3 separate regions of the Homo sapiens genome follow, and all the other regions are reported to be linked to region 3. Evidence: microRNA targets listed by miRTarBase, many of them from high-throughput screens and not tested one by one. Region 3 holds a microRNA gene; each other region holds the end of a gene's coding sequence.
What was found. The annotated mature microRNA hsa-miR-6799-5p reads GGGGAGGUGUGCAGGGCUGG and lies in region 3 at 3,370-3,389, shown strand. An mRNA with a match to its seed (bases 2 to 7 or 8) in the 3' UTR can be bound and repressed. Matches are read on the target gene's strand: a 7mer-m8 pairs with bases 2 to 8, a 7mer-A1 pairs with bases 2 to 7 and ends in A, and an 8mer does both.

Region 1 (4,255 bases), not on the chromosome of region 3:
TCTGATTTGATTGGATGTACTGTGGCTCCATAGGAGAATGTCACTGTCTTTAGGAAATGTGCACTGGAGAATCTAGGAATAAAAGGCATAATATCTGCAACTTAGTCTCGAGTGGTTAAAAAAAATAGGATATATAGAGAGAGCAATTAGAAACAGAGAAAGAATGATATATGGAATCAAATGTTGTAAAATGTTAATAACTGGGGGAACCTGGGCAAAGAGAATGTTAGAGGTTTGTGTTGTTGTTGTTGTTATTTTTGTTTGTTTTTTTGAGACAGGGTCTCGCTTTATTGGCCAGGCTGGAGTGGAGTGGTGTGATCTCAGTTCACTACAACCTCCTCTTCCTGGGCTCAAGCAATCCTCCCACCTCAGCCTTCTGAATAGCTAGGACCACAGGCACACCCCACCATGCCCAGCTAATTTTTGTATTTTTAGTAGAGATGAGGTCTGGCCATGTTGCCCAAGCTGGTCTCAAACTCCTGGGCTCAAGCAATCCACTCGCCTCGGCCTCTCAAAGTGCTGGGATGACAGGCGTGACCCCCTGTGCCTGGCCTGGTAAGAGTTTTTTGTACTATTCTTGCAACTTTTTGAAATTATTTCAAAATGATCAGATAAATGCTCCATGGACATTTAGTTCAATAGGACTAGGCCTATGCAATGAGGAATAAAGTCAAGAAGGAAGAACTAACAAGCTTTGTAAGTTGAATTTAAAAGCTTAAAGACTGGATGTGGTGGCTAGTGCCTGTAATCCCAGGTATCCAGGAGGCTGAGGCAGGAGGATAACTTGAGGCCATAGTTTGAGATCAGTTGATCAGCCTGAGCAACATAGTGAGACACTGTCTCCAAAAAAAAAAAAAAAAAAAAAAAAGGCCGGGTGTGGCAGCTCACACCTGTAATCCCAGCACTTTGGGAGGCCGAGGCGGGCAGATCATGAGGTCAGGAGTTCAAGACCAGCCTAGCCAACACAGTGAAACCCCGTCTCTACTAAAAATACAAAAATTAGCCAGGCGTGATGGCAGGTGCCTGTAAACCCAGCTACTCGAGAGGCTGAGGCAGAAGAATTGCTTGAACCCGGGAGGCAGAGGTTGCAGTTAGCCAAGGTCGCGCCACTGCCCTCCAGCCTGGGCAACAGACACTCTGTCTCAAAAAAAAAAAAAAAAAAAAAAAAAGAAGGAAGAACTGGACACAAAGCACAAAGGCAAGACTATTGCTGGTTCATTTTGCCAAATCAGAGATCACAGCAAGTCCAGGCCAGAGGCTGTTTGCGTCTGCCTGTGTTGGAGGTCCCCTGCGCAGTTGGGACCTAAAAGATCTTCAGGGATTGGGTAAGGCACTGAATCACCTGCAGAGTTAGACAGGACCCTAGAGGTTGTCTTCTTCCATCCAGGCACAGCTTATGGTTGCTGTTTTTTCCCAGTTCCAGGAACCAAATGGTGATAAACTAGGAATGGAGAGAGGGCTTGCTGCTGTCTGAGAGCTCAGGTACAGGTCATGGAAGATGGATGAGAGGACATTCGCCTGGGGCTTTTGAGGAATTCTTTGATTCCCTGCCATCCTTGAGTTGGGTGAGGACAGAGGTGGCTTCTTGCATCCTTCTTCCAAGGCCAGGTGAGGAGCTGGACTCTGATCACATGAGGTCTTTTATTTGGGGCGGCTCTGCTCTACTCCCCTCTGCCTTGGCAGCTGGCTGAACAGACACAGTGACAGCCACTCATTCAATGCATTGTTTATTGAGTACTAACTAGCTTTGGGCCCAGGCTCTGGGTTAGCAGCATGCGTGAAACAATCAGAAACAATCATGAGCGCCTGCCCACATGGGGCATACAGTCTGGCAGGGCAAGACTGTAGACACAGAAATAAATATCCGATTATAAGCTGTGATTAGAGGCATGATGGAAAAGAGCAAGGCTTCCTGAGAGAAACAGGGCGAGCACAGGAAAACCTCTCTGAGACAGTGACATGAACTTGAAACTTGAAGGGTAAACAGGAGTGGGCAAGACAAAAGGGGAAAGAAGGAATCTTCCAGGCAGAGAGAAAGAGAAAAGACCCAGGCACGGTATAGAGCCGAGGACATTTGAGGAAGAAAGGGCCGCCGGGGTTGGGGCCCTCTGGGTGACTGGGAGAGGAAGGCGCCGGAATGGATCCAGATTAAATCGGATGCTGTATGCCCTGTGGAGACATGGGGTGTACCTCTAAACGCACTGCGTTGTAAGCAAAGGAGTGACCTGATTTAATTTGATCTTTTAAAAGTCATTCTAGGCCAGGCCGGGTGGCTCACGCCTGTAATCCCAGTGCTTTGGGAGGCCGAGGCGGGTGGACCACGAGGTCAGGTGTTCGAGACCAGCCTGGCCAACATAGTGAAACCCCATCTCTACTAAAAATACAAAAATTATCCGGGCATGGTGGTGCATGCCTGTAATCCCAGCTACTCAGGAGGCTGAGGCACGAGAATCCGCTTGAACCCGGGAGGTGGAGGTTGCAGTGAGCCGAGATCGCACCGCTGCACTCCACCCTGGGCAACAGAGCGAGACTCCATCTCAAACAAAACAAAACAAACAAACAAAATGTCATTCTACACTGTGAAAAATGAGCTGGAGGAGGCAAAGGGAAGAAAGGGGAGATCAGTGAGGAGGCTGTTGTCATAGCTCAGGCAGGAGTATGGTAGCTTGGACTTGGCAACAGCGTGCAGGTAGAGCACCACCGCTGGAGTCTGGATGCGGGATGCATTCTGATGTAGGGAGTGGGGGACCGCGCAGCATCAAGAAGCCACCGCTGGAGTCCAGATGAGGGATGCGTTCTGATGTAGGGAGTGGGGGACGGCGCAGCATCAAGACTTGCACTGAAAATTTCTGCTTTGAGCAACTGCGTGGAATGGATGGAGGTGTCCTTCACCAGCTATGGGAAAGGCCAGGGAAAGGTTTAAAGGGCTGAGTGTGGTGGCTCATGTCAGTAATCCCAGCACTTCGGGAGACTGCGGCAGGAGGATCACTTGAGTTGGAGACCAGCCTGGGCAACATAGCAAGACACTCTTTAGAAAAATTAAAGTAGAGAAAAAGAAAGGTTTAAAGGGAAGAGACTGAGGGTTCAGAATTGTACCTCATCAGTTTCTGAGATTCCTGTGAGCTCTCCAAGTGCATAAATAAATGTGGGAATCATTAACAAATAAATGGTATGAAAAAGCAAAGGAATGGATGAGACCACCCAGGAAAAGTGTACAGAGAGAGAAGAGAAATAAAGAGGAGAGAGTTAAAGAGACCAGAATAGGCCAGGCATGGTGGCTAATGCCTGTAATTCCAGCACTTTGGGAGCCAAGGGGCGAGTGGATCACCTGAGGTCAAGAGTTGGATACCAGCCTCGCCAACATGGTGAAAACCTGTCTCTACTAAAAATGCAAAAATCAGCTGGGTGTGGTGGCACATGCCTATAATTCCAACTACTCGCGAGGCTGATGCAAGAGAATTGCCTGAACCCGGGTGGCGGAGGTTGCACTGAGCTGAGATCGCACCATTGTACTCCAGCCTGGGCAACAAGAGCAAAACTCCATCTCGAAAAAATACAAAAATAAAAAAATAAAGAGACCAGAATAGAAGAGAGCCCAGGACTGAGTCCTGAGGAAACAGCACAGAGATCAGAGAGAGGAGAAGACTCTGAAATAGGGAAACTGGAAGAAATGGCCAGAGACAGGAGAAAACCAAGAGGGTCAATGTCACTGTGGCTGAGAGAGAATATTTCCAGAGGATGAATTTGCTCAGCCAGCCAAGTGCTTCTCACAGGGTCGCTCCATACAGAGGCCATTGATTTCATGGGCACATGGAGCTGATTCAAGAACGAGTGAGAGGAAGTGACAGCGTGTGCAAGAAGACAGCTTGTAGAGGGCTGGCTAGCTTCTCCTCACTTTGTAGCCACATCTGCTATGAACTTATCCCATCTCTTCTTCCAGATTTCCATGAAAGTATTTTTCTCACTCTCCAACAGGGTACTGTACCTGCAGGAAGAGGAGGAGCCCAGGTCAGCCTCAGGGCAGGGGTTGGGGAACGGGGCAGGGAGCCTGAGAGGACATTAGAGCCTTGCAGAGCACTCTCCCCAGGCCAGCAGCAAGGACTAAACAGCCATGATGAGAAGGAACCCACAGGAACCATCGAGGCATCTGCCTCAAGCCTCCAGAGAGGCAAACACAAGCTGCGGGCTGGAAGGAGGCGGGGGACCTGGGAGGACACAGGACACTCACTTGATAGAGTTCATGGCCAGCTGTTTG
Region 2 (4,255 bases), not on the chromosome of region 3:
TTTAGGTGAAAGTGATTTTCTTTGGAATGTAAAAGCGCCCAGATCATGGTGTGACTCTACTCTTCCTTCAGTCCTAGGAGACCAAATGTGGCTCAGAGCCCTACCCCTTCCTGGCCTTTTCCCCCTTGCACAGTATGACCCCAGATGAGGCCTGTCCTCTTTATACCTGGAGGTAGTAGATCGAAGATGAAAAGTGGGGGTGGGAAGCGGAGAGGGGCTTCCTGCCAGCCAATCGGGACGCGACCGCCCAGGCTCCCAGCACAGCATCATCTGCTCCTGCTAAGACAATCATCAACATAAAAGGCTAATTGTATTAATCACCAAGGCACCCGGCCCGAGTCCCCCTCCCTTTGGGGAGAATTATGAATTGCAATTGCAGATGGCTCCACTGATTGAAGGCAGTGCTCAGCAGGGAGAAGGGTCAGATCAGATTATACACCATTAATTAAAAACTTCCCTGACAAACAGGAGGAAGGGAATGCACACCAAGGGCTGGCCTGGTTGGGTCTCTGTCCTCCCCATGTCCCCTGCCCCCACCCAGGCCCAGGGGCTATGCCAATGAAGCCTGCTTCCCCCAGCTGGAGCTACTGAGATTCAGCTCTCCAAAGGCCAGCCCTTCCCTCATCCAAACAGATGGCCTGCTGTCCTATTAAAGGGCTCCAGAGGAGGGGAAGCGAACCTTTGGTTACTTATTTCCACGTCTAACCTTGGATGCTCTTCAGAGGCTAACCTAATTCCCCACTTCTCAGGAAACTTATTTCCTCCTGCTCTGTCCTGACAGAACTGCTTTGAAGAACTGTTAGTGAAAATAGCCCCTCAGCTTTCTCTTCAGGCAACCCCTCATATTTTGGCCTGTATGTTCCTGGGACAGACATTGTGAAGCCTGCTCTGAAATTGTGGGTGGAACAGCAAATATCTGGCGATGCACCCTCTCCCCAGCCCCTGCCTGGAAGCATAGGCTTCTCAGCTGCTGTCATACTGGCTTATTTGGAGCTGTAACTCCTGAAATTTTCTCCTCTTGATCTATTACTGCCTCCCATCCTCCCCAACTGCCCAGCCTTATTCATTCATCAAACTTATATTGAGCACCCAGTGTGTGCTTGGCTCTGGGGACAAAAAGCAGTGATCATTTGTCAAGGAGCTTAAGAGCCTACCATAGGAGCTCCACGCCCCCATCCCCTTCAATCCTCTAGTTCCTGTTTCCTTCCTTCCTGGGGCTGCAGCTTGTATGAACCCCCCAGGAGCTCTATTTTGGAAAATTCTCAACTGGGAGCTGGGGAGACCTTAAGTGTTCGTGCTCCTGAACCAGGTGACCTTGAGCAAGTCAATCATGTCCTCTGTTTACACATACGCTCTCATACATGCATACATACAGACACCCAGCTCTCCCTGCTCATAAAAGGACACAGGCAGCCTTGGACTCTGAGAGATTGTGAAGATGGATGAGTGGGGCCCAGCTTGGAGAGATGTGAGTAGTATCTGCGCTGATATTACAGAACGCTGAGCACAGCTACTGGGGCTATGAGCACCAGGGATTCAGCTACTGCACTGGTCACAGGCTGGGCCTGCCACACTGCCCTTGGAAGACTTGGGCAGCCTTTCCCCCATCCCCAGTCCCTCAGGAGACATCACTAAAAAGGATCTATCTTTTGTTTGTATTTTAATTTAATTAATTTTTCATTTTAAATAATAGAGATGAAGTTTCACTATGCTGCCCAGGATGGTCTCAAACTCCTGGCCTCAAGCAATCCTCCTGCTTGGGCCACCCAACATGTTGGTGATTACAGGTTTGAGCCGTCATGCCTGGCTAAGTTTTTAATTTTTTGTAGAGGCAGGGTTTTGCCATGTTGTCCAGGCTGGTCTCGAACTCCTGGCCTCAAGCGATCCTCCCACTTTGGCCTCCCAAAGTGTTAGGATTACAGGTGGGAGCCACTGCACCAGGCCAGGACCCATCTTTTGTTTTGTTTTTTTTGTTTTTTTTTTTGAGACAGAGTCTTGCTCTGTCACCAGGCTGGAGTGCAGTGGCGTGATCTTGGCTCACTGAAACCTCTACCTTCCGGGTTCAAGTGATTCCCCTGCCTCAGCCTCCCAAGTAGCTGGGACTACAATCACGCGCCACCACGCCCGGCTAATTTTTTATATTTTAGTAGGGACAGGGTTTCACCATGTTGGCCAGGATGGTCTCGATCTCCTGACCTCGTGATCTGCCCGCCTCAGCCTCCCAAAGTGCTGGGATTACAGGCGTGAGCCACCGTGCCTGGCCGCCAGGACCCATCTTTTATATGAATTTGGCTGCTGCATCTTAGGGTACCATGGTGATGGGCGTCATAGAGATGAGAAGAACTGATTTTATTGGTTCGCCTCTTCATTCCAGGGCCCTCCCACAGCCCCTCACACCCACAAAGCCTCAAGGTCAGCAGACCCAGGAGAAGAGCACACAGGGTCCCTGGTTAAGTAGATCCAATGATGTGAGAGAAAACCCAGTCTCTCTTCCCTCCCTCTCAATCATCTTTCTCTCTCTCTTTTCCCCTCCTCCCTCTCATTACCAACAGCAATTGTCTTCATACCCAATAATTACAGTAACAGCAACAATAATCATCATTTATTGGGGTTGTTTTTCTAGCATTTTAACTTCTGAAAGTATTTTCCGATTTCTTGATTTCACAGCAGTCCCTGGAGGAGGATTGTGTGTCCATTTTACAGCTGGAGAAGCCGAGATCCAGAAAGGACCCCCAAGTTGTGGGCAGAATAAATCTACAGCAGCTTTTAACTATTAAACCAACTTAGATTTTGGTAGTCTTTCAGAGGCACTGAATCTCAAATCTTAGTTTCCTGGGTCCCTCCTGGGTTCCTACCACCCTTAGGGCTTATTCAACAGCTTTCTGGGGATCCTGTAATGCTGACAGAGAGCCTGGAGACGGCTTCTTTGACCCAGGTCATGAGTCAATGGCTAGATGGGCACTTCCCCTCTGAGGATTGTTCCTGCCTGAGAGTGGGCTGTGGGGTGGGAGCTGGGGCAAGCACCTGGGAGGAGGCTTCCCTGGGAAAGGCCTGTCTGGCTCAAACCTCCCTTCCTCTATCCCACCTCTCTACGAGCCTGAGAAAATGTTCTTCTCTGTGTCAGTTCTTCTCAAGGGTGGGGGCCTCTCCAGAGCATTTGGAGGATTGAGGAATAAAGACCTATTGGGAGAGGCCGGGCACGGTGGCTCACGCCTGTAATCCCAGCACTTTGGGAGGCCGAGGTGGGCAGATCGCCTCAGGTCAGGAGTTTGAGACCACCCTGACCAATATGATGAAACCCCATCTCTACTAAAAATACAAAAAATTAGCTGGGCGTGGTGGCAGGCGCCTGTAATCCCAGCTACTTGGGAGGCTGAGGCAGGAGAATCCCTTGAACCCAGGAGGTAGAGGTTGCAGTGAGCCGAGATCATGCCACTGCACTCCAGCCTGGGTAACAGATCAAGATTCTGTCTCAAAACAAACAAAGATCTATTGGTAGAGCAGTCTCTGTCCTCAGGAAGCCCCCAGTCTGAAGGAGGAAATATAGCCCCCAAAACCACACCCAAGGTCAGAGAAACACCCCCAGGAGCTCAGAGGCTGTCCCAGGGCCTGATTCCTCCAGAAAGCCTGTCCTCTCTGGACCAAGGGTTTCCTGGGTGGGTAAGAAGCTGGGGCTCCCTGAGGTCCCTATAGCTCCCATGTCTAAGCAGAGTGGCTGTCTGGGCTCCCATTCCTTTCTCCCCCAAGACTTGGGCATCTGGGGTCAGGACTCCTACGGGGTCCAGTGGGTGAGAGGATGGGAGGGCGATCCTAAATCCCCTGCCTTCCTCTGCTCTGTCCCACCGAGAGGTGGGGAAGCCCTACAGAGAGGGAATGGGACAAATTCACTCCCAGATTCTACCTAGAAACGTAATGCCAGGGATAGGGCTTGTCCCCTCCAGCCCACCTGGTCAGGACAAAAGGTCAAGCCTCCCCCTCCCGCCACCCCCAGGGAGAACCTCCAGGCAGGTCCTGCAAGGCAGGAAGCCCAAGGGCGCGGCCAGGCGTAGGCTGTTTCACACACTCTCCATCTCCACGGCTCCCGAACCCGGCTGGGATTCCTTCTTCAGGGGCTCCGCCCCTGCCCCTGCCCCTGTCCCCACCTCTACGGTGCCTGTGAGGATAGCCAGCCGCTGCGCCAGGGTCTTGGTGTCGGGGAACAGGACGAAGTTGTAGATCAGTGAGGCCAGGAGGGCTCCCATCAGGGGCCCCACCC
Region 3 (7,842 bases):
TGGCTCAGGAGATGTGTGCCGTGGCAGCGATGGGAAAGTGGCCCAGAGTCAGGGCTCGGGAGATGCGCTGTGGCTCAGGAGATGTGCGCCGTGGCAGCGATGGGAAAGTGGCCCAGAGTCAGGGCTCGGGAGATGCACTGTGGCTCGGGAGATGAGCGCCATGACAGAGATGGGAAGGTGGCCCAGAGTCAGGGCTCGGGAGATGCGCGCCGTGACGGAGATGGGAAAGTGGCCTGGAGTCAGGGCTCGGGAGATGTGCGCTGTGACGGAGGTGGGAAAGTGCCGTCACAAATGGAGCATCGTCTGTGGCCAGGCTTCTTGCTGGTTTCTGGTTCTAACTTGATGACCACTGGGCAGTGAACGTTTCTGTAGGGTGAGCGTCTGGGGGCAGCACTGCTGGTCTTGGTCTGCTGCACACACAGCAGTGGCCTTTCTAGACAGAGGAAGCCCAGAGCCTCTCCAGAGGGCCTGTCCCTGTGTCCGCCTCCAGCTGCAGCACACGAGGGTTCCCAGCACTTTAGGAGGCCGTAGCAACAGGCGTCAGTCGGGCGAGTATCTGCCTGGATGACGGCAGGAGCCACCTGCTGGGTGGCTGCACATCCAGTGAGACATGCTGCCACAGGCCTTTGACTCGTGCAGGTCTCCCCTCTGAGGACTTCTCCCCTGTGTCTTTTGCTGTCTGTTGGGTGCTTTCTGGGAAACCCTTTACTGATAGGCCATGGCTGGGCCAGTCTTGACAGCTCCCAGCACCTCCTCTTACTCAAGGCTATGGCCATGCACCACACAATCTCATTTCTGTTTTTTTTTGAGACGGAGTCTCACTCTGTCTCCCAGGTTGAAGTGCAATGGTGAGATCTCAGCTCACTGCAACCTCTGCCTCCCAGGTTCAAGCGATTCTCCTGCCCCAGCCTCCCGAGTAGCTAGGATTTCAGGCACGTGCCACCATGCCCAGCTAATTTTTGTATTTTTAGTAGAGATGGGGTTTCACCATGTTGGCCAGGCTGGTCTCAAACTCCTGACCTCAGGTGATCCACCTGCCTCAGCATCCCAAAGTGCTGGGATTATAGGTGTGAGCCACTGCGCCTGGCCTTTTTTTTTTTTTTTTTTTGTAGAGACAGGGTTTTACCACGTTGGCCTGGCCAGGCCGGTCTCAAACACCTGGCCTCAAGTGATCCGCCTGCCTCAGCCTCCCAAAGTGTTGGGATTACAGGTGTAAGCCACCATGCCTGGCCCACCATCTTATTTCTTTCTCCCCAAAGCCGACAAGGCTCCTCATTTTCCTGAAGGGGAAACAGCCCATCAGAGAGGGTCAGTGGCTTACCCCCATCTGTGCCCCACAGTCACAACCTCATGCAGGCGTGTCTGACCCCAGAAGGTGCTCCCCTGGGATCCTCTTCTAGAACAACATCATGCTCCATGCTCTTTGCTGTGCTAGGAGCTGGGTTATGGTTGGGGCCTGGAGTCAGCCCTCTGAGATGGGCTGCCCGCTGGCTGCCAGGTTCTGTGCCAGGCAAGTGCTGACCCTGGTTTCCTGTGACTGCTGTGATGAATTACCACCAGCACAGCGGTGTCAAACACCGGTTCTGGATGTCGGAAGTCCAACATCCATCTCACGGGGCTAAAATCAAGGCGTGGGCAGGGCTCGTCCCTTCCGGGGGCCCTAGAGGAGAGGCCGCGTCCTTGCCTTCTCCAGCTCCTAGAGGCCACCTGCTTTCCTTGGCTCGTGGCCCCTTCCCCCATCCCCAAAGGCAGCAGTGTGGCATCTTCTCTCCTGCCTGACCTCTGTTCCATCCTCACATCATCTCTGACTCTGAACTGTATCTTTCCCTTATAAGGACCCTGTGATGACATTGGGTCCACCTGGATCACCCAGGATCCTCTCTCCATCTCATGATCCTTAACTTTATCATATCTGCAAAGTACCCCCACCCTTTTTTTTGTTTGGAGACAGGGTCTTGCTCTGCCACCCAGGCTGCAGCCTTCACCTCCCAGGCTAAAGCGATCCTCCCACCTCAGCCTGCCAAGTAGGTGGGTCTACAGGCATGCGCCACCACGCTTGGCTAATTCTCATATTTCTAGTAGAGATGGGGGTCTCACCATGTTGCCCAGGCTGGTCTCCAACTCTTGGGCTCAAGTGATTCTCCCACCTCAGCCTCCTAAAGTGCTGGGATTACAGGCGTGAGCCACCCTAACCCCCAGAACCTGTGAATATATTCCCTTGGATTCAAAAGAGCCTTGCAAAGTCTGTTCCCTCACAACAGGCAGAGGGACCCTTTAAAAACCTAAGCCAGATCAAAAATACACCCATTTTCTCAGTTTGTTGTGGAGAGAAGATAAACGTGTGAATCCACCCAGAGACCTGTGGGAGTGCTGGACAGGCCGAAGGGGTCCGGGGGCAGCTGTTCCTGCTGTCGTGTTAACATCACGCTGATTCTCTGCTCACCACCCACAGCGGCTTTCATCTCCCAATCGGTAAAAAGCCAAGTCCTCACTTCAGCCAACAAGGCCCTGCAGGGTCTGGCTCTCTGTTCCCTCCCTGTCCTATCTGCAGCCCTCCTGCCCCATGGCTCAGGCCGCAGCCTGCAGGCCTCCTTGCTGCTCCTCCTACACACGGGCTCCGCCTTCCTGATGGCCTTGGCACAGGCTGTTCCCTCTGCCTGGGATGTTCTGTTGCAGAGGATTTTCAGTCTTTCCTCCTTAAGTTACTCTGTTTTGTTTATTTTTAAATTTTTTTATTTATTTAGAGACAGCTCTAACTCTGTTGCCCAAGCTAGAGGGAGTGCAGTGGCACAGTCATGGTGCACTGCCGCCTCGACCTCCCAGTCTCGAGCAATCCTCCCACCTCACCCTCCCGAGTAGCTGGGATTACAAGCCTGCGCCACCACACCCAGCTAATTTTTGTATTTTTGAAGAGACTGGGTCTCACTGTCGCCCAGGCTGGTCTTGAATTCATGGCCTCAAGTGATCCTCCCACCTCGACCTCCCAAAGTGCTGGGATTATAGGCGTGAGCCACCATGCCCAGCCCTGACAGTATTTGATGTATGTGTTTTCGTGGTGCTGTCTGAAATGTAAGCCCTGTGAGGACAAGTGTTTGGACCACTTTATTCACCACTCTATCCATGGAGTGAACAGCAGTGCCTGGTACCCCATGGGCACCCAGTAGGTGCTTGGTGAATGAATGAAGGTGCAGAGCCAGGCTTGACATGTTCCTGAGCCCTGTGAGGTTACTGAGATGCAATCATTTTGCAGATGAAGACACTGAGTCCTGGTGGGCCGTGAGGTCAGCGCCAGACTGGATCCTGCGGCCGCCTGGCTGTCTGTCCCTCTCGCTGGCCTCGCACACCCTTCCTGGGAGGAACAGGAGAGGAGGGGAGGTGTGCAGGGCTGGGGTCACTGACTCTGCTTCCCCTGCCCTGCATGGTGTCCCCACAGGGACAGCATGGACAGTGTCAAGCAGAGTGCGGCCCTGTGCCTCCTTCGACTGTACAAGGCCTCGCCTGACCTGGTGCCCATGGGCGAGTGGACGGCGCGTGTGGTACACCTGCTCAATGACCAGCACATGGTGAGCCCCCAGCCCTCACACCCCCGGATACCCAGGGCTCCCACCTCAGCCCTGACCCCCCTGGATGCCCGGGGCTCCCACCTCAGCCCTCACACCCCCGGATACCCAGGGCTCCCACCTCAGCCCACGCACCCCCTGGATGCCCGGGGCTCCCACCTCAGCCCTCACGCCCCCGGATACCCAGGGCTCCCACCTCAGCCCTCACGCCCCCTGGATGCCCAGGGCTCCCACCTCAGCCCTCACGCCCCCGGATACCCAGGGCTCCCACCTCAGCCCTCACGCCCCCGGATACCCAGGGCTCCCACCTCAGCCCTCACGCCCCCTGGATGCCTGGGGCTCCCACCTCAGCCCTGATCCCCCTGGATTCCTGGAGCTTCCCCCTCGGCGCTGACGTTCACCAGACACCAGAAACCATGATCCAGTGTCCCCGGTACTCATTACCTGCCCAAGTGTCCAGAAACCCTCCCATCCCCATCTCTGACACTCCCCTGGCTGGCCAGGGATCCTGTCCAGTGACCCCCACACCCCTCACCAACCACCCAGTCCCTTAGAAAATCCCACTCTGTTTCTAATACCTGGAGATTCCCCCAACAGCGCCCATCACCTGCGCACCAGCGCAGAAACCTTGACTGTCCCACCCCCACAGTCCCAACCCTCTAGAGTCTCGCCCCTTCACTGCTCCTTACCCAGCTGCCTGGGGTCCTGCCAGGGACACCCCACACACCCAGGTCAGTGCTGGCCATGGCGCCCGAGGCCCCGTGGCCTCCTCACCCCACCCCTAAAGCACGCACAGTGACACATGTGCACACCCCTAAACCCCATCTTCCCGACTGCACACACATCCCGACCCTGTCCCGCTCCTGAGCCTCTGCTCTCAGGTACCACCTCCCCCAGGGGCCTGACTTGTCTCTCCTCTGCCCCTGCAGGGTGTGGTCACGGCCGCCGTCAGCCTCATCACCTGTCTCTGCAAGAAGAACCCAGATGACTTCAAGACGTGCGTCTCTCTGGCTGTGTCGCGCCTGAGCCGGGTGGGTGTGGCCTAGATATTGGCTGCTGGAGGTGGCCCTGGCATCCCTATGCCCTCTGACACCCCTCAGGCCCCCACTCTCCCTGAGAGGCAGCCCAGCCCAAGGTTTACAAACTCAGGCTCTGAGCTGGATTCATCCTGGCTCGGCCTCTTCCTGGCTGGGTGGCCCTGGACAAGTGGCTTCACCTCCCTGGCCTCAGCTGCCCCCTGTGTTCAGTGGGGATAATACCGGTGCCCACCTGGAGGCACAGAGCGCTGTGGATAGAGTGCTCAGAACAGGGCCTCGCGGGCCGAGCACCCCGGGAGCCAGCCGCCCTCATGACCTCCTCCCTCTCCCACTTCTCTCTCTGTCTCCCACTTTCCCTCTTCTGGCTTTGCCTCCCGCCTCTCTCTTTCCTGTGCAGCCTCTCACTCCTGCCTGGCGTCCCTCTCCCACCTTTGCTCCTGTCCTGCCCAGGAACATCCCCTGAGGCCTTGTGCATGCCAGGCTCCATGTCGGGTGACACCAGGGACACAGATGAGTCAGAACCAAGCTCTGCTCTTAAGGAGCTCCCTGTCCTTCTGGCAGGGAGGTGACTCAGTCACAGATTGTCAGAAAAGGGGTGACTCGTGCTATAATGGAGGTAGGATAGGTCACCCATAGGAGGCACTTAACACAGCCTGTGAGTCCACGAAGGCTTCCTGGGGGCGGCGATCCCAGAATTGAGACTTAGAATACACATGCGCATCTCCTGGGCAGTCAGGAAGAGGCCTGGATTCGCAGGCAAAGAGAAGAACACACCAGCTCGTGCATCCACTCATTGTTTCTTTTTTTTTTTTTTTTTTTTTTTTTTTGAGACGGAGTCTCGTTCTGTCCCCAGGCTGGAGTGCAGTGGCGCGATCTCGGCTCACTGCAAGCTCCCAGGTTCACGCCATTCTCCAGCCTTAGCCTCCCGAGTAGCTGGGACTACAGGCGCCTGCCACTATGCCCGGCTAATTTTTTGTATTTTTAGTAGAGACAGGGTTTCACCGTGTTAGCCAGGATGATCTCGATCTCCTGACCTCGTGATCCACCCGCCTCGGCCTCCTAAAGTGCTGGGATTACCGGCGTGAGCCACTGCGCCTGGCCCACTCATTGTTTCTTTCTCAGGTTTTTTTTTTTTTTGAGACAGGGTCTTGCTGTCGCCCAGGCTGGAGTGCAGTAGTGCAGCCATGGTTCACTGCAGCCTCTGGCTCCTAGGCTCAAGCGATCTCTCGCCTCAGCCTCCCGAGTAGCTGGGACTGCAGGTGCCTGGCTAATTTTTGTATTTTTTGTAGAGATCGGTCTTGCTTTGTCGCCCACACTGGTCTCAAACTCCTGGCTTCAAGTGATCCTCCCGCCTCAGCCTCCGAAAGTGCTGGGATTACAGGTGTGAGCCACTGCACTCAGCCTCAGTCATTGTTTCATTCATTCATCACACATCTGAGTACTGCAGTGTGCCAGGATGACAGTGAGGTAGGAACACAGACCAGCACGGAGGTGGGACAGAGCTTCCTGGAGAAGGGCTTTTCAAGGTTGAATAGGAGTTTGCAATGAGGAAAAAAAGTCACATGATCTTTCTTTTTTTTTGAGATGGAGTTTCGCTCTTATTGCCCAGGCTGGAGTGCAATGGCGTGATCTTGGCTCACTGCAACCTCTGCCTCCCGGGTTCAAGCAATTCTCCTGCCTCAGCCTCCCAAGTAGCATGGATCACAGGCATGTGCCACCACGCCCAGCTAATTTTTGTATTTTTAGTAGAGATGGGGTTTCACCATGTTGGTCAGGCTTGTCTTGAACTCCTGATCTCAGGTGATCCACCCACCTTGGCCTCCCAAAGTGCTGGGATTACAGGCGTGAGCCACTGCACCTGGCCATGATCTTTCAATCTTTCACTAATTCCCTGCCTCTTCCCCGAACCTCTTCCTATCTGACCTTGTATTAGGCCTAGGGACCCAAAAAAGGGTCAGACCCAATCCCTGCCCCTGAGTGGCTTCAAGCCTTGTAGGGGGACTACAGGAAACAGCCTCCAGGAGCCGGTGCGCTGTGTGCTCTGACGGAGGAAGCCTGGGGCATGGGAGGCTCAGAGCCGAGTGAGGAGGGGGCCCTGGGAAACTGTCACACAGAAGGGAACCAGCAGAGACCTTTCCTGCCCACCACACACCAGCATTACTTGGAAAGATCAACCAGCCGGGCTTAGTCCTAGTTTTGCCCCCATTCAGTGTGCCTGACGCTTCCTCGCTCCCTTCCCAGAGCCTCAGATTCCTGCTTCATAAAACCATTGCATTGGTCGGGCATGGTGGCTCATGCCTGTAACCCCAGGACATTGCGGGACTGAGGTGGGAGAATTGCTTGAGGCCATGAGTTCGAGACCAGCCTGGGCAACATAGTGAGACCCTGTCTCTACAAAAAAAACCCACTAACAAAACCATTAACACTGACAGCACTGCCCTTGGAAGGCACCATTTGCTCCACCCTGGCATGTGGACCCACGTGCCCCTCCCACCCCAGCCCCCAACTTATTTCTTGCTCTTCCCCGCCAGATCGTCTCCTCTGCCTCCACCGACCTCCAGGACTACACCTACTACTTCGTCCCAGCACCCTGGCTCTCGGTGAAGCTCCTGCGGCTGCTGCAGTGCTACCCGCCTCCAGGTAATGAACGCCGTGCACTCCCCAACCCGGGGTGGCCTGCTGCTGGCATCTGGGGGCCTCCTGCTCCACGGCGCACCAGGTGGGACTGGAGGGTCTGGGTCAGGATTTCTCTGAAGCTGGGGCGGTTCCTCTGTCCCCTTACGTGGCTGCACTCGGGGAGGCAAGCAGGCAGCCCGAGGCCCAGCGCCTACCCTGTGCAGCATCGTGGATCAGCCTCATAGCTGAGGTCCCTGCTACCCGGGCTCTCACTCCAGCCCTGTTGCGAGGGACTGTTAACTGTGCCTGTTTTATAGATGAGGAATCTGAGGCTTGGAGAGGGAGCTCCTGGCCCAGCGTCACTCACCCGGTCAGTGGGTGATTCCAGGCCGTGCTACCTGAATTACCATAGCCCTGTCAGGGGTTTTCACATCTGTTGGGAACCTTCCCCTACTGCTCACAGTCACAATAGCCAGTGTGTATGAAACTCCTGTAGTGAGCCAGGCACTGGGCAGGGGGCACCTGCACCTGCCGAACAGAGCTGGCAAGGAGGAACAGCCAGTGTGATATGCACACAGGGAAACTGAGGCTTGGAGGTGAGACATCACCATTCTAGGCAGTAAGTGGCA

Region 1: miRTarBase lists ADA2 as a target of hsa-miR-6799-5p. Seed matches in the 3' UTR shown: 7mer-m8 at 2,465-2,471 and 7mer-A1 at 2,298-2,304.
Region 2: the mRNA of AQP6 is a reported target of hsa-miR-6799-5p. Seed matches in the 3' UTR shown: 7mer-A1 at 3,798-3,804, 7mer-A1 at 3,367-3,373, 7mer-A1 at 3,231-3,237 and 7mer-A1 at 3,026-3,032.

What each region holds. Positions count from the first base shown.
Region 1 is chr22:17,177,592-17,181,846 of GRCh38, forward strand. It overlaps ADA2 (adenosine deaminase 2), which reads right to left. Exons shown (of 10, transcript NM_001282225.2): 9 at 4,229-4,255; 10 at 1,199-3,985. The coding sequence ends at 3,892. Among named protein-coding and RNA genes, the nearest start is that of HDHD5-AS1, 20 kb to the left of the region's middle.
Region 2 is chr12:49,975,472-49,979,726 of GRCh38, reverse strand. It overlaps AQP6 (aquaporin 6), which reads right to left. Exons shown (of 4, transcript NM_001652.4): 4 at 2,588-4,255. The coding sequence ends at 4,056. It overlaps LOC105369764 (a long non-coding RNA gene), which reads left to right and starts at 4,222. Exons shown (of 3, transcript XR_001749143.2): 1 at 4,222-4,255.
Region 3 is chr19:49,788,502-49,796,343 of GRCh38, forward strand. It overlaps MIR6799 (microRNA 6799), which reads left to right and starts at 3,365; the gene lies at 3,365-3,433. It overlaps AP2A1 (adaptor related protein complex 2 subunit alpha 1), which reads left to right. Exons shown (of 23, transcript NM_130787.3): 5 at 3,434-3,563; 6 at 4,490-4,591; 7 at 7,129-7,237.